Linked DNA regions of Homo sapiens. The protein of the gene in region 3 purifies or fractionates together with the protein of the main gene of each other region. This does not show direct contact. Each region holds a gene or a part of one and is shown on either strand. Other genes may lie near its edges.

The links.
Region 1: the proteins of PLXDC2 (region 3) and SLC31A1 purify together in Homo sapiens (co-immunoprecipitation; 3 studies listed by BioGRID and IntAct, with this or other methods). This does not show direct contact.
Region 2: the proteins of PLXDC2 (region 3) and TMEM131 purify together in Homo sapiens (affinity purification with mass spectrometry; 2 studies listed by BioGRID and IntAct, with this or other methods). This does not show direct contact.
Region 4: the proteins of PLXDC2 (region 3) and NCSTN purify together in Homo sapiens (co-immunoprecipitation; one study listed by IntAct). This does not show direct contact.
Region 5: the proteins of PLXDC2 (region 3) and UPK3BL1 purify together in Homo sapiens (affinity purification with mass spectrometry; 2 studies listed by BioGRID and IntAct, with this or other methods). This does not show direct contact.
Region 6: the proteins of PLXDC2 (region 3) and DHRS7 purify together in Homo sapiens (affinity purification with mass spectrometry; 2 studies listed by BioGRID and IntAct, with this or other methods). This does not show direct contact.
Region 7: the proteins of PLXDC2 (region 3) and DOK4 purify together in Homo sapiens (co-immunoprecipitation; one large-scale study listed by IntAct). This does not show direct contact.

What each region holds. Positions count from the first base shown.
Region 1 is NC_000009.12:113,224,544-113,228,043, forward strand, and holds part of SLC31A1 (high affinity copper uptake protein 1), read left to right. Parts: intron 1-3,500.
Region 2 is NC_000002.12:97,989,449-97,992,948, forward strand, and holds part of TMEM131 (transmembrane protein 131 precursor), read right to left. Parts: intron 1-3,500.
Region 3 is NC_000010.11:19,822,932-19,826,431, forward strand, and holds part of PLXDC2 (plexin domain-containing protein 2 isoform 1 precursor), read left to right. Parts: intron 1-3,500. UniProt on the Homo sapiens protein: May play a role in tumor angiogenesis.
Region 4 is NC_000001.11:160,356,416-160,359,449, reverse strand, and holds the end of NCSTN (nicastrin isoform 1 precursor), read right to left. Parts: intron 2,851-3,034; coding exon 2,696-2,850; intron 2,410-2,695; coding exon 2,197-2,409; intron 1,302-2,196; coding exon 1,179-1,301; 3' UTR 501-1,178; downstream 1-500. UniProt on the Homo sapiens protein: Essential subunit of the gamma-secretase complex, an endoprotease complex that catalyzes the intramembrane cleavage of integral membrane proteins such as Notch receptors and APP (amyloid-beta precursor protein).
Region 5 is NC_000007.14:102,636,525-102,639,791, reverse strand, and holds the end of UPK3BL1 (uroplakin-3b-like protein 1 precursor), read left to right. Parts: intron 1-592; coding exon 593-669; intron 670-957; coding exon 958-1,078; intron 1,079-2,158; coding exon 2,159-2,267; 3' UTR 2,268-2,767; downstream 2,768-3,267.
Region 6 is NC_000014.9:60,143,619-60,146,008, forward strand, and holds the end of DHRS7 (dehydrogenase/reductase SDR family member 7 isoform 1 precursor), read right to left. Parts: exon of another isoform or gene 1,396-2,390; coding exon 1,348-1,395; 3' UTR 501-1,347; downstream 1-500. UniProt on the Homo sapiens protein: NADPH-dependent oxidoreductase which catalyzes the reduction of a variety of compounds bearing carbonyl groups including steroids, retinoids and xenobiotics.
Region 7 is NC_000016.10:57,479,994-57,483,493, reverse strand, and holds part of DOK4 (docking protein 4), read left to right. Parts: intron 1-3,104; exon of another isoform or gene 3,105-3,199; intron 3,200-3,500. UniProt on the Homo sapiens protein: DOK proteins are enzymatically inert adaptor or scaffolding proteins. They provide a docking platform for the assembly of multimolecular signaling complexes.

The DNA.
Region 1 (3,500 bases), on a different chromosome or scaffold from region 3:
TCACCCTCCCGAGTAGCTGGGATTACAGGCATGTGCCACCATGCCCGGCTAATTTTGTATTTTTAGTAGAGACGGGGTTTCTCCATGTTGGTCAGGCTGGTCTGGAACTCCCGACCTCAGGTGATCCACCCGCCTTGGCCTCCCAAAGTGCTAGGATTAGAGGCGTGGGCCAACGCACCCGGCCTTGTGTGCTCACTTTTATCTGGTCTTTCGAAAGCATTCAGTGTGGTGTTTTAGAAATAACTACTAGAGAGTCTATGTAGTACAGTAGTTAAGTACTTGAGCTCTGGAGCCAAATTGCTTTGCCACTTATTAGTTGTATAGGCCATAGACAAGTTACTCAGTTTTTGCCTTTGTAAAACAGGCATAATGGTAGTATCCATTTCTAGGTTTCTTGTGAATATTATAGGAGTTAATTCATGTAAAGCATTTAGAACAGTGCCTGGCAGGTAGTAAGTACTCAGTGTTAATTGCTGCTGTCATTTTTCTCTTCTCATTTATACTTCATTGCTTTACATAGTATTTACGTACTTTCAGTAATAAGCACAACTGGCATAAATAGGTTTGTGAATAAACACACTGTCACCATTGATAAGCACACTTCACAGAGGGGGAACCAGAAGTGTTGTTCCCATCACATTGGAGAATAGCCTAATGGTGTGATGTCAGTTAAATTGGATAAGAGAGTTCTGTGGGATAGTTTGCTAAGAGTATAAGGCAACAGTTCACAGAAGAAAGTAATGGATTAAAATTGAAAAGGAATCCAGGACCATATTTGTCAAATACCTTGAAGGTCAAGGTGACAAGTTTGTACTTAGATTGGTAGGAAGTGGAATTTTTTATTCTAAATGGCATGATTGATGTAAAAAAGTTCAAATGGCTTAGGAGTGTATGAAGTAAAAAGTTACATTTCCCTAGCTCCATTCCATGTCAGTAGCCACTTCATTTTCTAATGGCCCCTAGAACATGAGGTTGTTGTGAAGGCATGGTAAACACCACTTGGGGCACTGGTATTAATCTGTTAAAATTTTCAATTCAGCTTTCCTTTGGATTATAATCTCAATTTTGAATTGAGAAAAATAAAGTTTCCATACTAAATGTGAATAAAATGAAATGACTGTTTTGAAAGTAGATACCATACTCATAAGAGTCTTTGATTCCTAAGTCTTTCTCTACCTCTTTTGTCCAACTTGGAAGTCTTGGTAGAGAAGGACTTAGGAATCAGAGACTCATCTCTACTGTTAATTCCTTTTTGCACCTTTCCCACCAGAAGTGCTACAAGAGAGAAAGATGATATAATAATCACTAGAAAAGCAAAGTGTTCGGCCAGGTGTGGTGGCTCCCGCCTGTAATCCCAGCTCAGGCAGATCACCTGAGGTCAGGAGTTCGAGACCAGCCTGGCCAACATGGTGAAACCCCGTGTCTGCTGAAAATACAAAAATTAGTCAGGCATGGTGGCGGGCACCTGTAGTCCCAGCTACTCAGGAGACGGAGGCACGAGAATTGCTTGAGCTCCGGAGAGGCGGAGGTTGCAGTGAGCTGAGGTCACGCCACTGTGCGCCAACCTGGGCGACAGAGTGAGACTCCATCTCAAAAAAAAAAAAAAAGAAATAAAGAAAGCAAAGTGTTTACAGTGACAAGTTGATTTCAACTAGCAGTTGTCAGTTAAGTTAGTAACAGGGCATCACCCAAATAACTGCATTTTAAAGTGGACAGGGCAGGCCTGACTGGGGAAAAGGGAGGGAAGGGGTAGGGGGTTCCTGATGCCTGTACTCCCACATGCAGCTCTTAAATCCATTTTAAAAACTTAAAAGTTTTCTGTAGTTTTGTGACTTAAGTATAACAAGTCATCAAAAGTCTGATACTTAATACATTACAATGAACAGTTTATGCCAAAAGAAATCTTATAGTAGGGCCTGGGAAGGAAATGCTTTTGAAGTTCCATTGCTTTGAGTAATATCATTTTATGATTTAGGTAACATCCCCAAGCAGAGGAGGGGCCCATCCTTAGGAATGCAAAGCCCTGCAGAGAAGGAAAGGGTTGAGAAGGGTCCACCCTACCTCTTTTCCTTTACACAATGGCCCTAGGCTTTTGTATACAACCTGCTTTTGTAGGCTTAGGACATTATGAAATACAGCATGGTAAGATGGAAGCCTGAATCTCAAAAGTAAATATGAGAAATGATTTGGAGGGAACATATAAAGAGAGCAAAATTCTAGCAACAGGTGACATATTTCCCTAGATAGAAGAGTTATTGTAGAACTATGATGAGTGTTTATATAATTTTGAAGCAGTTTACAGCATCTAGAATGTAGTCATTTAATTTATGAAATGAAAGGGAAATGGTGTAACTCATACACCCGCATCCTCTCTCCTACCTTTTCTGATGGCTTTTTATGAGTTCTCACACAACCCCTATGCATAATCTATACCTTAGTACATTTTACATTATTTTTAAATTATTTACATGTGTCCCTCTTTCACCAGAATGGGTTTCTTATGGTTAGAGTTTCATCATGGTACCTTCATTCGATAGGTATGCAATAAATAGTGAAAGAATAGTCTGAGTTCCTTGAAATTGCATAGCAAATGAGACCTAAGAGCCAGATCTAGAATGCAGATGTAGAACCTCTTTCAGTTCCTAGCCCAGTACTTTTACTGCCACACCATACAGCCTCTATCTGAGATATTGAACAATTTTTTTCTTTTTTCTTTTATTTTTTCTTGAAACAGGATCTTGCTTTGTTGCCCAGGCTGGAGTGCAGGAGCACAATCTCAGCTCACTGCAACCTCTGTCTCCCAGGCTCAAGCAATCTTCCCATCTCAGCCTTTCGAGTAGCCGGGACTACAGGCATGCACCACCACGCCCAGCTAATTTTTTGTATTTTTGATAGAGTCGGGGCTTTGCCATGTTGCCCAGGCTGGTCTCAAACTCCTGAGCTTAAGCAGTCTGCCCACCTTGGCCTCTTAGAGTGCTGGGATTACAGGCATGAGCCACCATGTCCAGCCTCATTTGCATTCTTGTACTGCATTTTCATTAAATCATTCAAGTTCCTTTTATCTTGTGTAACATATTTAATTGCATTTTCCTACTGAATAAAAAAAAGGGAACAGTTCAAATGTTTTCTAGTTTCTGTCTTATGCCATATTAATTTCCAATATTACTCATAGGCAAACCAACAACATTATTATCCAAACAGTTTAAATGCTATGTAATATAACTAAAGCAAAGTTTAGACAAGGAGGACCATTGTCTACATTTGATTATAACAATAAAGCAGTTAAAGCAATGCTTTGCCAATGTATATTTGTCTGACTAGCTAGTTTTGTTTAAATCAAACTGTGAAAGGCTGTATACTTCAAGAAACATGAAAGTGAGCCTTATGTGTGACTTAGTTCCTTTCAGAGATTAATTTTGTCATCTAATGAGCAAGCAAGCTATTATATTTCATATTTACTGTACCTTAAAATTGGAAAGTATTTAACATATTTTATTTGA
Region 2 (3,500 bases), on a different chromosome or scaffold from region 3:
CTGGGGGTGGGGATTAAGGGTAGGGAGAGAAATAGGAAGTTGTTTAATGGGTATAGACTTCCAGCTTTACATGAAGAAGTTCTGAAGATCTGCTACACAACAACGTGAATACACTTAACACCACTGAACTGTACATATAAAAATGGTTAAGTATTTTGTTATGTGTTTTTTTCACCAAGTTTCTAGAAAATAAATAAATGAAAATAAATAAAAACGTAGGTTTCATACTCTATCATGACTGACCATCTAAAAGATCCTCTTAAACATCAAACCTCTGCCCTAAAACGGCAGAGTTGTATGCAACAAAATCAATCAGGCAAATGGCAAAGGCTTTCTAGAAACCCTCCATCTGTGGTTTTAAAAGTAATCACATGGGAATTAAAAAACAACAACAACAAAACAGATTTGGAACTACAGATGAGAACTAATGACCACCTAATTCCAAAATGCCCTAATAAGAACAAAGCACCTTTGAACTTCTTCTGGAGCCCTTGGACCTCTAATGGAAGTCTGCGAGAGATTTCTGCCTGCCGAGGCAAATGCCACTACCAGCCCTTGCATTATCTCCAGCTCCTGTTAGTCCAGGGCCAGCTTCTGAGAATATTCCACAAGTCTAGACTAACTCATCACACCAATCTGGAGCTAAGCAGTATCTACAGAAGGCAATATTGCTTAACCTTAGCAATACAACCAGGTATCTAAGTCATCAAGAACAAAGAGACAGTAGCTTCGAATACCAAATATTCATTTCCCTGTATTATCCACTCACTGGTTTCCTTTTAAGAACCTTCATGATCCAGAATGGCCTGTGATTACTTAAACTGTTAACAAGTCAACAGAAAGTGATATGAAAGCTTGTGGCTGATTGAAAAAAAAAAAAAGTACATTTTACTTGAATACTAATACATGGGTTTTGCATGAACTGTCAAGTCTGTTCTTTTTGCAGTTGGTACAATATAACAAAATCTAATTCCTGAAGTGCTCATTTGGGGTTACATAGTTTGGCTCAAGGGACAGATGTCTTAGGGCGGAATCCTGGCTCCACTATTTACCAGCCCTATCACGCTGGGTATATTACTTAACCTCTCTAAGCCTCAGTTTCATGATCTCTAGATTAGGGTTTTATGAGAATCTGAAAATCTTAAAATCAAAAAGTTATAAAAGTGATGGTTTAGATAAGTGTATACAACTCCTTTTAGTTACAAGGAAAAGCAACATGTGGGGAAGAAAAAACTGGTGTTACTCAATGTCCTACTATAGCAGACTTCCTCATGACATCTGCACCAGAACTGAATTTTACCTGTACTTCTGACTCTCAGGTTCTCAGGTATAAAAAGTCCTATGCACTTTTTTCATATGCTTTGTAAATAGTTTTGTACTGTGTTTTGCACCTACGTCACAAATACAGCTTAAAACAAAAATTTGTGCATGAAACTATAGTACACTGGCAAAAAATTTTAAAAGTCCTAATAAAGGCTGTCAAACGTTACTCTGCCATTTAATTGCCAATTGATAGAACATGTGACTATGAAATTTAAATTGTCATAGGTTGAAACACTCTTGAAAATTTATTCGAATTTATATTTACTAGATACATAAACTATAGCTTCTCATTTATAATAAATTAAATGCCTTCCAAAAACCCACTTCACAATGAAATTATATTACAATGAAAGTTTAGGCAAACTTTCAATCAAAACTGAATGCCTGCTATTTATGTACTACAGATGTTGACAAAGGTTCTGCCCTACAGAAATTCCAGCCTAGGTGAAGAATGACACCCCTGAAATCATTTAAGTAGCTAACAAGGCAGTACACAATTAGGTGTCAAAATGAATGATGAATGATTAACAAAGACCACAAATTCAGAGGGAGCATGCAGGACTGAACAGAAATGGCGAAAGGCGGTAGGAGAGAGGCTGCTGCAGTGCCCCATGGTGAAGGCAGTGGGAGAGTGATCAAAAGAGGATGTAACAGGCACTGATGCCACTTGGTGAAGGGTCAAAACTGAATCCAGTGGGGCAGGCAGAATAATCATAGCATTAATAAAAAACTGAAAACTGGAGGTGGCGCAAGATAATTCTGCCCTGGACACATGCAGTGTGCACCAGCAGCTAGACACACACAGGGAGGAAGACAACCAACAGGCAATTGGAGAGCAGCAACTGTCAGCTAGGGCACAACCAGAACCGAGAAGTACAGAGTCACCGAAACAATGCCAGATGCTGCTTACAAGAGACCGTAGGGGAAAATTCAGCTGTAGGAAAAGGGCCTCTTGGTCTGGCAAGGCCAATCAGAGCGCTTGAGTCACATATAGGCAAGAGAGAGAACACCTAAAATATCAAGCACCTAGCAAAGATTTTATTTTCCTCCAAGAGTAATTTGGCTTATTGCTACTCTGGATAGTAACAATTAGATGAGTTTACATCTACTCCCAAAGCAATCTTGTTGGCAGATGTCTATGAGGGTCCACTGTAAGAATTAGAAGGAGGAGGAAAATGGTCATTAGCAAGAGGAAAAAAGGACACACTTTTTCCAACTACAAAACTCCAATGCTCCATCAGGCAACAGCCTTTAGTAAAAGCAGGCTACAAACGTTCATTAGTGAAGCACTTATTAAATAACATTCTATTTACAAGGCCCTAAATTAAAAGGTACCCACTCTACCCCATACAAAGGGTTAACACATCTCACTCTTAAGAAAATCACTTTCAAAAACATTTTAACATTATCGAGTAATAAGTAGGTTAAAAATAGTTTGGTTAAGAAAAAGTAAATAACACTCCTAGTCAATTTGGCTACCCTTAGAAAACTATTAGATTCTTATCTGTTTTCTTGTGGTCTTTAGTCCTATGCACTTTTCTCATATGCTTTGTAAATACTTTTGTACTGTGTTTTGCACCTATGTCACAAATACAGCTTAAAACAAAAATTTGTGCATGAAACTATAGTACACTGGCAAAAAATTTTTAAAGTCCTAATAAAGGCTGTCAAACGTTACCCTGCCATTTAATTGCCAATTAATAAAACATGTGACAATGAAATTTAAATTGTCATAAATTGAAACATTCTTGAAAACTTATTCGAATTTATATTTACTAGATACATAAACTATAGCTTCTCATTTATAATAAATGCCTTCCAAAAACCCACTTCACAATGAAATTATATTACATGATATATAATGCTTTTTTAAAAAAGGTCTTATTTGCCAGTCATAATGGGCTGCTTTATAATTCAAAAGACTACTAAAAGTATACATTTAATATATACACATACACATGTATTTTCACTATATATTTTAAAAATATATTTTCACAACTCACACACATTTTTGCTATTCTCAGTATCTAGATGTTAGCCTCAAGACAAAATCTTGCCACCAATCTAGAACTAGTTATTTGTAGTGATTATAACAACTTCTATCTCTGGAAACTCTTTCAAAGTCCTTACAAACTTTACATCACAGCCAAAACCATCTCAAAGGTACCTTTCCTCTG
Region 3 (3,500 bases):
TTGAGACAGAGTCTCGCTGTTTCTCCCAGTCTGGAGTGCAGTGGCGCGATCTCAGCTCACTGCAAGCACCGCCTCCCAGGTTCACGCCATTCTCCTGCCTCAGCTTCCCAAGTAGCTGGGACTACAGGCACCCGCCACCACGCCCAGCTAATTTTTTGTATTTTTTAGTAGAGACGGGGTTTCACTGTGTTAGCCAGGATGGTCTCGATCTCCTGACCTCGTGATCAACCCACCTCAGCCTCCCAAAGTGCTGGGATGTTTACTTATGCTTTTAATTTAATATCTTAAAATATGATATACATATATATGTACATATGCATACATATATGGTGGTGGTGGTGTTTCATTTCACTGAAGATGAAGACTATTAAATAATTTTGGTTCTTTGTGGGATTCTTTTTGAATTAAACTGTTTTAGGCCTCATGTCACTAAACTATAATGAAGGAGGCTGTAAAAATATTGTCTCGGCTGGGCGTGGTGGCTCACACCTGTGATCCCAGCACTTTTTTGGGAGGTGGAGGTGGGTAGATCAAGAGGTCAGGAGATCAAGACCATCCTGGCCAACATGGTGAAACCCCGTCTTCCCTAAAAATAAAAAAAATTAGCCAGGCATGGTGGCATGCACCTGTAGTCCCAGCTACTCAGGAGGCTGAGGCAGGAGAATCGCTTGACCCGGGAGGTGGAGGTTGAGATTGCGCCACTGCACTCCAGCTGGGCGACAGAGCAAGACTTCATCTCAAAAAAAAAAAAATTCTCATAAAACTTGTTTTGAGGTGAGGTTCAGTGGCTCACACCTGTAATCCCAACACTTTGGGAGGCCGAGACAGGGGGATTGCTTGAGTCCACGATTTGGAGACCAGCCTGGGCAACATAGGGAAGAGACCTCATCTCTACAGTTTTTTTGTTTTGTTTTGTTTTGTTTTTAATTAGCTGTTCATGGTGGTGCACACCTGTAGTCCCAGCTACTTGGTAGGCTGAGGTGGGAGGATCACTTGAACCCAGGAGGTCAGGGCTGCAATGAGCTGTGATTACACCACTGCATTCCAGCCTGGCCAACAGAGTGTGACCCTGTCTCAAAAAGTAAAATAATAAAAAATCTTGCTGTGGGAGCTGTTACAGGGAAGCAGATGAGGATATTCTGCAATACATTTCACGGTGTCTGCTCCCCAAGATATTATGCCATGAGAAAATGAGAAAGAGAAAGAGACAGAGACAGGGTGAGAGACCTTATGTTTCAATAACAGACATAGTTCTTTTGAACTTGTTTGTGTCTTCTGGACATTATAAATAGTACCTAGGAGTTTTACCATTTAACTTTTGGTTTCTTGAAATCTCAGTGCAAGATTTGTGGCCCACCTCCAACAAGCATATAAACCTTCTGGCCTACATTTGTGTGCTAGCTTACCTATGTCTTCATCTTACCTTTTCTACCTTTTCTCACTTAAAATCTTGTTTGGTATTTGTTTTGGAGATGGGAAAAAAGCAAATAAAATTGAATCGCCATAATACATAAGGTTGTGTATCACTAAGTTGCTTTCCACTTTCTCTTAATCTGATGAATTCCAGCCCTTTGGCTTTATTCTGAGCACATTTTCCCAAAGCTGTAATTATCTCTGTAGAGTACTCCATTCTGAGAGGTCTTTCTTCACTGAGTTCACACAGGATATCTTCCCTCACTGCCTCCCACACAATGATTCTGTTAAGCTGAGGAAGTTACTAGAGAATGACAGGCTAAGTAGTGATGCTTTTATTAAGAAAGTTTCTTCCACTATTTATTGTGTTATACATTAACAGGATAATAGCTGACAAAAGATGAGAATATAAAATATTCCACATGTGTTTATAACCAGACAGTGAACTCATTTCATATTTATTGTTTGGTTTTATTTTCCTCTTTTTAATTAAAAAGGTGGTAAGCTGTGGAATGATGGTATAGATTTGTATATTTAAATAGAATTAGAGGTCTTGTCAGGGGCCTGTTTGGAATTAGCCTGTTAAGGATTACAGATCTGAACATGGGGTCAGACACTAAGTGACGTTACTGGATATCCAGACTTTTAAATCTCTTCTGTCAGAGGCCATCAAACCAGATCTAAGCGCTGGTACCTTTACCTTACCCTTCAAATTAAAATAGGCTGTCCTCACTCTTTCTGCTTGAGGCCTTATCATAGTTAGTGGTCTGTGAATTTTGTCAAGAGAGGGTCACAGGCCAAGATGCAGACTGACTTCCTTTTTACTTGTCTGGAATCTTATTACTCAGTTCCTCAATTATTTTTTACTCAATAATTGGACATTTTCCTTAGAATCCATGTTGTTCGAGGTCTCGTCCTGTAGGTAAGGTGTGTAGCTCATTGAGGCTTTGAGAATATGGAGAGAATGTTAAGAGTTTGCCCTATGGAAAAACTGCATAGGAATCCGAATATTTGAAAGTCAATTCTCTATGTATTCCTTGGAGTGTTCAGTGATACAAAAAGTCTAAATAAAACTGATATATTCTCTTTGAGTATGATGCTTGGTAAGTACACTCTGGTTCATTTTGCTTAGGATACTGTATTCTTGGGTCCAGCTGGAATATGGAACATTGAACATTCGATAATGTTTTTTGGGTAGTAGTTACAGATATCTGCTTACAGTAGCAACTGCTTACAGTAGTAACTCCTACCATTTTCTGTCTGAAACCATTATATGAACATCCAATAAAATATTTATTTCCCTAAAGCCTAAAAGGGAAGTAGGACAGGCAGAATTTATCATTTAGAGCATGAAATGTACCAATAATGATGAGTTTTAAGATGGGAAAGTATTTAAGGTACATTTCAGGTACTGCTCATGCTGAATCTATTATATCTATTTGCTGAATTCTTTCCAACATACAAACTTAGACTGTAGCTACCGCTGACCTAATGAACCTGGTTATTTATATGCTGTCTTTTTGTTCATTTGTCTGGTCAAAAGGGCCCACTCACCTTCCTGTGGGCATAGCTGGCGGGAGCAAGTCTGGTATTTCAGCTGACTTCTCCTTTTGGCTTTCTCTTCTCCTTCTCCTTTTGCTATCTTTTCTCTTCAATTCATTGAAAAATGTCTATATATAAATTACATAAATGCAATCTGCATTGCAAAATATCCCAATGAAAAGTATATATGAAATAATTTTTGGCAAACTGAGTCATGTTCTTAGTGGATATGGGTTCCTGTGATTTCAAGGAATGCTGTCCTGAACTTTTAATTTAAAAACATTCAACCTCCTAATTATTTTGCCAGTCCGTAGTTTTATGTTTAAGATTGCCCAAAATGTACTGCCTGTCCATAATTCTTTCAAGAATTATTGCTTCTGATATTAGCCATTTTAATTCTATTTACTATTTATATAGGTCCTGGGAATATACACCTTTGAATTTTTTGTTGTTGTCATTTAGCCCTTTAATTTGCTAATTCCAGGAAACAAAAATTGAACTAAGAGACATACCACTGTGTCTTTGCACTTTTTTTCTTGGTGCTT
Region 4 (3,034 bases), on a different chromosome or scaffold from region 3:
TTTGGGAGGTCGAGGTGGGTGGATCACAAGGTCAGGAGGTCACGACCATCCTGGCTAACATGGTGAAACTCCGTCTCTACTAAAAATACAAAAAAAATTAGCTGGGCGTGGTGGTGGGTGCCTGTAGTCCCAGCTACTTGGGAAGCTGAGGCAAGAGAATGGCGTGAACCCGGGAGGTGGAGCTTGCAGTGAGCCGAGATCGCGCCACTGCACTCCAGCCTGGGTGACAGAGCAAGACTCCATCTCAAAAAAAAAAAAAAAAAAAAAAAAAAAAAAAAATGCCCGTTCATTACAAAGTGAGAAGAAACTATGTTAACATTGTTCTTACAAGAGGAGAACCAGGGCTCTGCAATTTGAAAGGACTTCAACTGTTTTTGACAGAGCCTTACTCCTTGGGTCCTCTGGAGCCCAAGATGATAGCATAAAAGATAACTTCATGACTTCCAGTCTAGGCTCGCTGAACAAGGTGGCCTGGGAAGAATAACTAGCAGTACAAGTCGTGTGGGATAATCTATTTTAATGAAACTCATTATATATATATTTACAAAAAGAATAAAGGAAAAAGACAAAAACAAAAATAGATATTACAGCTTAATAAAAAGTACAACTGAGCACTGTGGGCTGGAGGTGGGATACCCACCCGCAGCACGCCCACCCTAATGTGCCATCTGAGGGCCTGGAGAAAGGACAGTGGGAAGGAGACAGTAGGCTCAGCCCAGAGATGCCCCTGTCCTCAGGGGCTCAATGTAGTTTGACCCTGACATTAAACCTTTTATGTCCTTCCCAGTCAGGAAGGTGGCTGGGTACAGGGGTGGGGGTGAGGAGCAGAGAGAGGTACAGGGCAGGAAGGAAAAAGTAGAAGGGTCCTGAAGGGCAAATTAGGGTGGGTAACTAGGGAGTTAAACAGGAGCAAGAAGCTTCTATTTGTAATCCCAAAATCTGGCATGAGTAGAGAAGGAAGAGGAAATGGGGAAGGGGTGATGGGAAAGGGGAGCGGAGGAAGGGAGGCAATTTATTTATTTCTCCCTGTCTCTTTTGGATAGTTCCACTCTTTTATGTTAATCCCAATCTGAGACAGGCCCAGGGAGGTTCCAGTGACAAATTAGTGGTTGTGTCCCAGTGGGACAGATGCTCTAGGAAGTGAACTGCTGAGCTGGCAAGAAAAGCTGGGGTCCTCCTCAGTATGACACAGCTCCTGGCTCCCGGGGAGCAATGAAAAGGACATCAGCTTTGGCATTGATGCAGTAGGTGACGATGAGGGAGAAGATGAGGATGCCGAAGCCCACTGTCAGGGTGATCAACTGCAGGGGGAGGGAGGGCAGGAAAGGACAAAGGCATTCTCAGAACTCAGTGCAGTTTTTTGGATAACTGTTTGGGGTTTGGAGCCATGGGAATTCGGATGCTGGCTCTAAGCACCAACTATGGAATAATCATGGGCAACATCTCTCCAGCCTACAGACTTTGTCTCCCCATTTGAAAAGAGAAGTAAAGCATCTCTGTTCTTGCTTCCATCTTGTATTACTTAGATTTTAGGCATTTTGAAAGGAGGGCCCATGGCTTTGGTTCCCTTGCGGCACTTACATTACTGACTTGTGACAGGAGCTCGGTACATTAGACTGACTCATCCCAGCTGTGCCAGATGGGGAATGCCAGCCGGGAGTTGAAGCTGTGAAAGAGTTCTGGGATCCACAGGGGCTCTCCAGAATGAACACCTACTCAAACTATCTGTGAAGAAAGGCCTCCTGGCCGGGTGCAGTGGCTCACGCCTATAATCCCAGCACTTTGGGAGGCCAAGAAAGGTGGATCACCTGAGGTCAGGAGTTTAAGACTAGCCTGACCAACATGGTGAAACCCATCTCTACTAAAAATAAAAAAAAATTAGCTGGGTGTGGTGACACATGCCTGTAATCCCAGCTACTCGAAAGGCTGAGGCAGGAGAACTGCTTAAACCCAAGGGACGGAGGTTGCAGTAAGCTGAGATTGTGCCATTGCACTCCAGCTTGAGCAACAAGAATGAAACTCCATCTCAAAAAAAAGGCCTCCTAAGGGAACATGCTGGCTGACCAGGGACAGATTTGCAGTAGGCTTTTGCTACAAATGTGGGGCAAATGGGAGATGGAAAGGGCTATATGACACAAGAAAGCAGAGAAAGAAGTCAAACAGATCCCTGCCACCTATGCCCCTGCCCCATCTCACCTCAAGCTCTTTGCTGGCGATGAGAAATATCCGGGCACGGATATCTTTCCAGCGGCTCTCAGTCCATGTAGAGTATTCAGTAGAGCTCCACTGACTCAGTTCAAAGGCAGGAGACAAGGCCCTGGCTAATCGTGCAGTAGAACGCACACACCGGGGGAGTCGGTCCGTCTCATTAGAATGCAAAGGGCCCTGGACCCATGAGTACTCATACAGCTGCACAGAAGATGCGCCACAACACACGGCTAGGGTGATCCTCTTCTCACTCGTTCCCTCTACCCTCTATCAGTGCCATGCTCTAACCAATTGAGCTAACTGGCTGCTGTCCCTTTACCCTTCAGATGGTCCATTTTCACCCAGGCTTTTCAACACCCAATTGCTGAGGACTGCATCTCTCCACCTCTCCATCCCAATCCCCTGGGTCTAACTAGGTCTAGAAGAACCTCCAACTTTCCCAAGGGAAAGGGGCCCCAGGGCACTTCCAACACCCACCACCACTCACATCCTTGTTTTCACTTGGGACTTTACTTGGATCCTGGCACTGCTCTCGGGTGAGGTTGACCACTGTGCCAGTCAAATTTGCCAAGGCATACTGTACAACATAAGTGGTGTTGGTGGGGCTGGAGACAGCGATGTAATGTTGAAGAGGCCCGTCACCTGAGTGCAGACCAAAGGGAAGGGAAGATTTGGTGGGTGGATGGTGGGTGAAATAGGAAAAGCCCAAGATTGGCAGCAGCCAGAAAGAAGGGCAATGGAAAAGGATCCATCAAATATGAGAAGAAAGAAAGGAAAACAGGGGGTAAGAAAAACAGAGAGGAAAAAGAAAAAAAATAATAAAGGT
Region 5 (3,267 bases), on a different chromosome or scaffold from region 3:
TTAGTAGAGACAGGGTTTCGCCATGTTGGCCAGGTACCTGCCACCATGCCTGGCTAATTTTTGTAATTTTAGTAGAGATGAGGTTTCACCATGTTGGCCAGGCGGGTCTCAACTCCTGGCTTCAAGTGATCTTGAAGGCCCACCTTGGCCTCCCAAAGTGCTGGGATTACAGACGTGAGCCACCATGCCTGGCCTATCCTGCTTTTCTTGAGCAGAAGGTTCCCCACCTCAAGCCCCAGTCCCCACAGGCTGTGTGGACCACTCAGGTGGCGTCTCTCCATCCAGACAGGGTCTCCCCTCACTAAATGCTTGATTCACGCATGTTCAGTTCTGAGACATCTAATACTCGCCCTCTACCTTTCCCAAATGAGGACACAGAAGCCCAGAGAGGGGGAGGGACGTCACACCACTGGAAATGTCACACCTAGATTTGAACCCATTCTGTTGGGCTCTTTCGCCCCAGCCTCCGGCCCCCTCCCCGGGCTGCTCTCGCCAGGGCCTGGGACTCCAGGGGACAGACTTGCAGGCACCAAGTCTGATGGTTTCAGGACTCCGGGGGACCCCCATGTCCAATGCTGGGTCTCCCATTCAGGGTGAAGTTCCTGGTGATGAATGACGAAGGACCCGTGGCTGAAACCAAGTGGTCCAGCGACACTCGCCTGCAGCAAGGTAGGGGCCAGAGGCTCCGGTCAAACAGTAGGGGCAGGGGGCTGGGGCCTGGGGGTCCTGAGGACTGAGGATGGGCTGGGGGAACAGGTCAGCTCACCACTGAGTCAGAGGCAGCCAACCATCTTGCAATCTGCAGGCGCCCCTCCCCCAGCCACCCCCTTCCCCCAGGCCTGGGTGGTAGTAGGGGAGGCAGGGCGGTGATTGGTCTGGATTCTGCCCAAGGGCCCCTTCCGGTCAGGTAAAATTTCTTTTCCTGCCCGCCTGTGCGGCCCCCATCACTGCCCTCAGCCCAGGCACTTCGGGCTGTCCCCGGCCCCCAGAGCCCGGGCACCGTGGTCATCATCGCCATCCTGTCTATCCTCCTGGCCGTCCTCCTCACGGTCCTCCTGGCTGTGCTCATATACACCTGGTGAGTGGACCGGGCTGAGACCGCCCATGCCTCTTGGGAGGGGCGGGGCCCTTGGGCATTAACCCCTCCCTCTCTAGTTCCTCCCCGCCCGCCCCTGCCCACCTTCCAAGCGGGCACTGTGCACCCCCTGGTGGCAGCATCTGGGATTGCAAGTGGGTGCCGCCTGCGGACACCCCAGTCGGGGAGGCGCCCAAGGAGGAGGTGAATTGCTTTCACACCAAGCTCTGAGCATTGCCTCAAGACGCCATACAGGCCGGGTGCGGTGGCTCACGCCTGTAATCCCAGCACTTTGGGAGGCTGAGGCCCGCAGATCACCTGAGGTCAGGAGTTCAAGACCGGCCTGGCCAACATAGTGAAACCCCAGCTCTACTAAAAATACAAAAAATTAGCCGGGTGTGGTGGCACGTGCTTGTAATCCCAGCTACTCAGGAGGCTGAGGAAGGAGAATGGCTTGAACCTGGGAGGTGGAGGTTGCAGTGAGCTGAGATTGCATCACTGCACTCCAACCTGGGTGACAGAGTGAGACTCCATTTAAAAAAAAAAAGGGGGGGGTGTCAGGATTTCATACAGAGCTCAGGTGCCTGAGCCTGGGGCACAGAGAGTGTCCACAAGGCTTCCTAGAGAAAAGGGGAGACCTAGCCCTGTTGGGATTTGGGGAGGAGGGGGAGAGGGAGTGACTAAAAAGGGGGTGGGGAGGTGTGGGGGCAGGAGGGGCAGGAGGGGTGCATGCAGCCAGGCCAGGCCAGGGGCCCCAGGTGCCTAGCTGAGGAACTGGGCTGTATCCTGCAGCCTATGGGAGCCGGGAGTGGGTTTTGATCAGGGGAGACAGGCAGATAATGTTTGAGCGGGGTCCTGAGGTGTGGAGGGTGGAGGGGGAGAGTGATGGGGAGCAGGAGCAATGAGCTAGATTTGTGAGGTTTGAAGGAATCGCCTCAGTCCCTTTGGTTAATTCTGCCCAGCCAGTGGAGTCTCAGTTTCCCCTATGCGATGGGTCAGAGCATGCTAGCCAATGGCTGTGGGATCTCGGCCAGAGCCTTTCTTCAGCATCCATCATCTCTCCCTCTCTCCTCCCCTCCCAAGCTTCAACAGCTGCAGGAGCACTTCCCTATCAGGCCCAGAGGAGGCAGGGAGTGTGAGAAGATACACCACGCACCTCGCGTTCAGCACTCCTGCCGAGGGGGCTTCCTGAGGGGTTCCAGAGGGGCCCACGTGTCCCTCCACCTCCTCCCTGGCCCAGGCTGCAGAGCCTGAGCTGGGACACGCCCTGAAGCTTCTGGACCCTGAGAGAGATTGTTTCTTTTCTTTACTATTTTTTTTTTTTTTTTTTTGAGACGGAGTCTCACTCTGTCGCCAGGCTGGCGCGATCTTGGCTCACTGCAACCTCTGCCTCACGGGTTCAAGCGATTTTCCTGCTTCAGCCTCCTGAGTAGCTGGGACTACAGGCACACGCCACCATGCCCAGCTCATTTTTGTATTTTTAGTAGAGATGGGGTTTCACCATGTTGGCCAGGATGGCCTCCATCTCTTGACCTTGTGATCCGCCCGACTCGGCCTCCCAAAATGCTGGGATTACAGGCGTGAGCCATCAAGTCTGGCGAGAGAGATTGTTTCTAGATGAGGGTGGGGGCGGGTGTCCTTAGCCCAAAGCTTGTGCCAGTCTCTATCGGAAATAAATGCCCCCAAAACCTCCCTGCCTGTCCGTGACATCATACACCTGGGTAGTCTTTCTGCACCACTGCCCCTGGCTCCTCCTCCTGAGGAGGTCCCCAAGGGCGTGTAGGACCAGGGCAAGGCTCAGGATCCTAGAGAAATTGTCACCTGGGGCAGGACAGGCCTCTCTGCCAGCCTTACTGTCCCTATCTGTAAAATGAGGATGGTAACCCTGAACCCACAAGGCCACAGTAAGGCTAAACCAAGGTGAACATGCCTTGGGAACTGTGAAGACTGTGGACCCAAAGCCGGTTGCGGTGGCTCAGGCCTGTAATCCCAGCACTTTGGGAGGCTGAGGCAGGAGGATCACTTGAGCCCAGGAGTTCGAGACCAGCCTGGGCAACATGGTGAAACCCCATCTCTACAAAAATGACAAAAAATTAGCTGGGCTTGTTGGCGGACTGTGGACCTGAGATAGGTGCTCCTCTTGTCCTGCCCAGACAGCCTCCTGGTAACCAAAGGCCACGGGGCAGCATGGC
Region 6 (2,390 bases), on a different chromosome or scaffold from region 3:
TACATATCCATGTTGTTATGTATGCATTTATTCCATTGCTTCTACCCGCTATACCTCATCGTGTACCTCTACCACATGTCATCTTCCCCCTTTTCCAAGGACAGCCACTTGGGTGGCTTCCAACTTGCCCAACAACTATTCTACAGTTATTTTATGTATGTTACTTTGGCTCCAGCTCAATTGTGAACTGCTTGTAGATAAGGACCATGTTTTTCTTTACCTGTTACTCCTGCTGATTTCCTATTAGTGCCTGTGCATGTTTTCTGCTGTAAGGTGTTAAATGTTAAAGTAAAATTAATAATAGTAGAAGTAAGGAGTTGCCAGTGGAATCTTCCTGAGCTGAATCTAATCATGGCTTTACCCCTTACTAGCTTTGTGACCTTGACCTTGGAAAAGTAAAACCTTGTTGGTCTTTCTTCATCTATCAAGGTAGGTAATACCATCTATCTTAGTGGGCTGTTATGAGGAATGAGTTAATTAACTAATACTAAGCACTCCAGTACAGTAGAAGACATACAACAGGTGTTTAATGAATAATAGGTGCAATGAATCCTACCTGCTGCTTCAAATTACAGCCATCTGTACCTGTCAACTTTTCTAAGAGTATAAGCATCTTGGAGGTAAGGTCATTTCAAATACTTCTTTATATCTGGTCATTACCCAGCACTCTGCTTTGTGTGAAATATTCTATACATTTATGTTGCTATGGTTTGGATGTTTTTGTCCCCTCCAAAATTCATGTCGAAACTTAATCCCCAAAGCAACAGTATTAAAGGATGTGGCCTTTAAGAGGTGACTGAGTAATGAATGAGATTAAATGCTCTTTTGAAAGCATTTTGCTCCTCTTTCCCTTCTGTCCCTTCCACCATGTGAGGACATACATTCCTCCACTGTGGAGGATGCAGCAATGAGGTGCCATCTTGGAAGCAGAGATCAGCCTTCACCAGACACTAATTCTGCTGGTGCATTGGTCTTGGAATTCCCAGCCTCAAGAGCCAGGAAAAACAGATTTCTGTTGTTTATAAATTACCAAATCTGTGGTATTTTGTTATAGCAGCACAAATGGACTAAGACAAATCTGTTAACTTAGATTTTAAGCATATGTGCTAAAGTATTTTAAAAGGTTATTTTATCCAAGAATATAGTATGAGTTAATACCTTTTTTGCAAGATTCATGGCAATCTTTTATTATTTATTTTTTATTTCATTCCATGTTGGAAGCAAAGTCATATCTATTAAAAAGTAAAATCACAAATTAGTCTTTGATTATTCAGAAGCATAAGAAGATTGCTGTTTTCATGTTTTCCATTTCTCCCTCCAGTGGCTTGAAAAGTACAGGTGCTCTTTTCAGTCATGTTTTGTCTTAAAGATTTTAAAATAAGAAGAGTCTGCATCCTGTAAAAGAGGGACAGAAACATGGATCAGTACCTACTCCTATTTACTCCAGTTTTTAACATTTAAGTCCTTCTGTTTTGAGGAGCTGTATCATTATGATTCACTATTAAGAATCTTTACAAAAGTTCAGAAACTGCTTAAATTAGAATTTAAAAATCATAGCCAAAATTCTAGATGTACACAAAAGTACTTCTAATGAGTTTAGCATCATCTCTGGTTTAGAGGAGGTATAAATAGCATTGGACTGCAATGCTAAATTCTCTATAATGACTTTTCTGGATCAGCATATCATACCTACACTGACTTGCCCTAATAAATAAAAACAATGAGTCAGATTATGTAGAATTGAGATATATGGAAGATAACTCTTTAAAATTATTTGTGGCCAGGCAGGCACTGTGGCTCATGCCTGTAATCCCAGCACTTTGGGAGGCCGAGGTGGGCAGATCACCTGAGGTCAGGAGTTAGAGACCAGCCTGGCAAAACCCCATCTCTACTAAAAATACAAAAATTAGCTGGGTGTGGTGGTGTGCACCTGTAATCCCAGCTACCCGGGAGGCTGAGGCAAGAGAATTGCTTGAATCCAGGAGGCGGAGGTTGCAGTGAGCTGAGACTGCGCCATTGCACTCCAGCCTGGCCAACAAGAGGGAAACTCTGTCTCAAAAAAAATAAAAAGAAAAAAAAATTATTTGTGAACTTTTTGTATATTGCTTAAGGAATAAAACAAGGCAACCTGATAATCCCCAAGATGTGATGTTTCTTTTCAGAAGATATGCATTTACCACTTTCAAAACTTTGCACTAAGAAAGACAAAATAATAATAATGATAATACAAAATTCAGTGTAGCCACTGTTCTTGATCCCTAAAAATAATAAAGATTCATAAAAACAAAGTTCCAGACATACAGACTAAAGAAGCAAATTCTAGTTAACAAGTACTATTAGCTTGAAATAAGCTATGCTAGCATTTTCTTAACTTAGACGCTTATCAATAA
Region 7 (3,500 bases), on a different chromosome or scaffold from region 3:
ATGCCCAGCTTATTTTTTCATTTTTTGTAGAGACGGGGTCTCTCTATGTTGCCGGATCTGGTCTTGAACTCCTGGCCCCAAGTGATCCTCCCACTTTGGCCTCCCAAAGTGTTGGGATTACAGGTGTGAGCCACTGTGCCTGGTCTGCTCTCCACTTCTTGCTGTCCTATTGGGCCTTCACAGGCTCAGCTTGGGGGCCGCCTCGCTTGCTTAACACAGTGCATTCCTTCTGGAGGATGGTGGGTTGGTTCTGGGCCCCCCCCTCACCACTTGACCCCACTGCCTGTCAAATTTGTGGGTCCACCTATTGGCCCTGACCTTTCCCTCCCCTTCCGAACCCCTCTTTGCCCACCATTTTGGGTCCTAGGTTAGGTCTTGCTCTTGCAAACATCATTAGGGACTAAGTGTGGCCAGGGGTCCCTGTGACTCAGGGCCGGAGTGAGCTGGCAGGACTTTGGCACCCAGCCTTCCCCGTGAAGGTCACTCTTCCCGCTGGGGACCTGGGGTATGGGACGGGGTGGGGCCTATGGACAGACGCAGCAGGAGCACTCCTGCGAGCTTGGGGCCACAGTCCCTGGTGGGGCAACACTGGGAAGGAGCAGGCTGGCTTCTGGTGGTTTCACCGCCCTGTCTGGGCAGCAACTCTTGAAGAAAACTATATATATATACATACACACAGCCCTTGGAGTTTTCAAGGCAGAAGCTCTGGCCAGGCGCAGTTGCTCACACCTGTAATCTCAGCACTCAGGGAGGCCGAGCCTTGTGGATCACTTGACCCCAGGAGTTCAAGACCAGCCTGGGCAACATGGTGAAAACCCATCTCTAGGGGCCGGGCGCAGTGGCTCACGCCTGTAATCCCAGAACGTTGGAAGGCCGAGGCGGGTGGATCACAAGGTCAGGAGATCGAGACCATCCTGGCTAACACGGTGAAACCCCGTCTTTACTAAAAATATGAAACAATTAGCCGGGTATGGTGGTGGGCTCCTGTAGTCCCAGCTACTCGGGAGGCTGAGGAAGGAGAATGGCGTGAACCCGGGAGGCGGAGCTTGCAATGAGCCGAGATTGGGCCACTGCACTCCAGCCTGGGCAATAGAGTGAGACTCCGTCTCAAAAAAAAAAAAAAAAAAAAACAAAAGCCCCATCTCTACAAACAAGTTTTTAAAAATTAGCTGGGCATGGTGGTATGTACCTGCGGTCCCAGCTATTCAGGAGGCTGAGGTGGGTGGATCACTTGAGCCTGGGTGGTTGAGGCTGCCGTAAGCCGTGATGGCACCCCTGCACTCCAGCCTGGGTGACAGAGCAGGACACTGTCTCAAAAGAAGAAAAAGAAGGCCGGGCGCAGTGGCTCACGCCTGTAATCCCAGCACTTTGGGAGGCCGAGGCGGGCGGATCATGAGGTCAGGAGATCGAGACCATCCTGGCTAACACGGTGAAACCCCGTCTCTACTAAAAATACCGAAAATTAGCCGAGCATGGTGGTGGGAGCCTGTAGTTCCAGCTACTCGGGAAGCCGAGGCAGGAGAATGGCGTGAACCCAGGAGGCAGAGGTTGCAGTGAGCCGAGATCGCGCCGCTGCACTCCAGCCTGGGCGACAGAGGGAGACTCCGTCTCAAAAAAGAAAAAGAAAAAGAAAAAGGGTAGAAGCTCTGTGTCCCAAGTGGGCAAGCAGGTGCCTCATGAATTCATTTCCTCATTTAAAGTAGGTAGATTTATTCTCATTTTTTTCCAATGGGGAAATTAAGGCACAGGGTCTTAAGCGGCTTGCCCAGGACCACACAGCCAGCTGGATTCACACTCCGGGCTGTGCTATGTCTGAGCTATGTTGGATGAACCTGGGGGTCCAGTGGCTTCCTGTAGGCGTGTTCTGACTGGGGGCTTCCACACTGTAGACCCACAGCCAGTGGTCAGCCTGCTAATCATCTTGGAGAGGAACTCCTGAGCTGGTCCTTGCTCTGAGGAGAAGGCAGCCCCAGAGGCAGGCGGTGAAGACAGAGCTGAGAAAATTGACCCATCTCTGGCTGCCAGAGCCCAGGTGTAGCAGAGCTGTTGGGGATCAGTTGCCAGTGAGGGGACCCCAGACCAGACCTTATAGGAGGAATGTAGACTGCCTAACTGTGGGAGGTTCTTGGACCCCAGGGAGCTGGGATAGAGGCAGTGAATGGGCAGGAGTGGAATTGAGGGGCTATCAGGGTGCAAGTGGGATAGGGGCGCATTACCGTCTCTGCCCCTCCCTTGTTTGCGTGTGCCCACTGGGGTAGTCCCATCTGTGCGTGTGCCCACTGGGGTAGTCCCATCTGTTCCTTGTTAGGCACTCAACAGACAGGCCTCCAGGACATTAATTAATGCCAAGCTGCTGGCACAACCAGCAGCATGCCTGTCCCAGGGCCCCGTTCTGGCAGCACAGATACCCAGCTGACCCCAGAAATGCTGCTCCGTTCCCACCCGCTGATCCTGAAGACACAGGGGCCACATTGCTGGCATAACCCTGCCCCCGAGGATGGATGGCAGGGAAGGCTTAGGTGGTGGCAGGCAGCCAGAGACGGCAGCAGGATGTTCCCCCCACAGACTGGTCTCCATCACCACCCTGGACCTTCTCCTTCATCCCTGGCTCTGCCCCAGGCCTGCTGTGTGACCTTAGTCATGTAGCTTACCCTCTCTGGGCAACTTTTCTTTCTCCATCTATAAAATGAAGGGGTTAGACTGGGTCAACACTGAGCCTCCCCCTGAGTCTGAGTCTTTGTTGTCTGTAGATCTGCCTGATTTGGGGTGGCTCTGCTGGTACTCCCACTTCCTGCTCCATATCTACCTCCCCTTGGTATCCCACATTGTCTCCTGCATGTCTTGTTGCCCCAGGGCCCTGACTGGTACTCCTATAATTAACTCCTGCCCATGCTCAGGACATGGAGGGCCTGCTTGGCTTGGCCAGACCCAGTGGCCTGTTGGGGCCCGGGCCCCACCCTCACGGACTGGCCAGCGTTCCCAACCCCAGGGCCAGGGCAAGGCGTCTGCTCCCACAGTGGCTACCTCCAGCCGGCCCAGCACATTCCTCAGGCTTATCTGGAGGCCCGCCCCACTGGACTCTGCCCTCCCACCCAGGAAGCAGCACCCAGAGCTGCGTGCGGAAGAGTTGCAGGGCCTGGGAACAGGCCCTGCGTGAGCTCGAGGTAGTGATTCTTAGCCTGGGGCTGGAGAGAAACAGGTAGAGGACCGGGTGGGGCAGGAGGGTAGAGGGGTTTGTGGGGGCTGCTGAGCTGACCAGGCAAATTGTCTTTAACATTGCAGAGCATGGGGTTCACTCAGACACGCAGGGGTCATCTCCTGCGACCCTCCTCCTCCATCTCTGGGAAGCGCTTCCCTGCTACCCCTGGGAGCTCTTGTACCCAGGAAGGGGCTTTTGCTCTTGGCAAGTTGACCTAAATTTGCACCAGAGTTATCACAGTTGATGGGGCCACGATCCCAAAGTGCTGAGGGACAGCAGCTCCCTGCCACTTCCCTTCCTG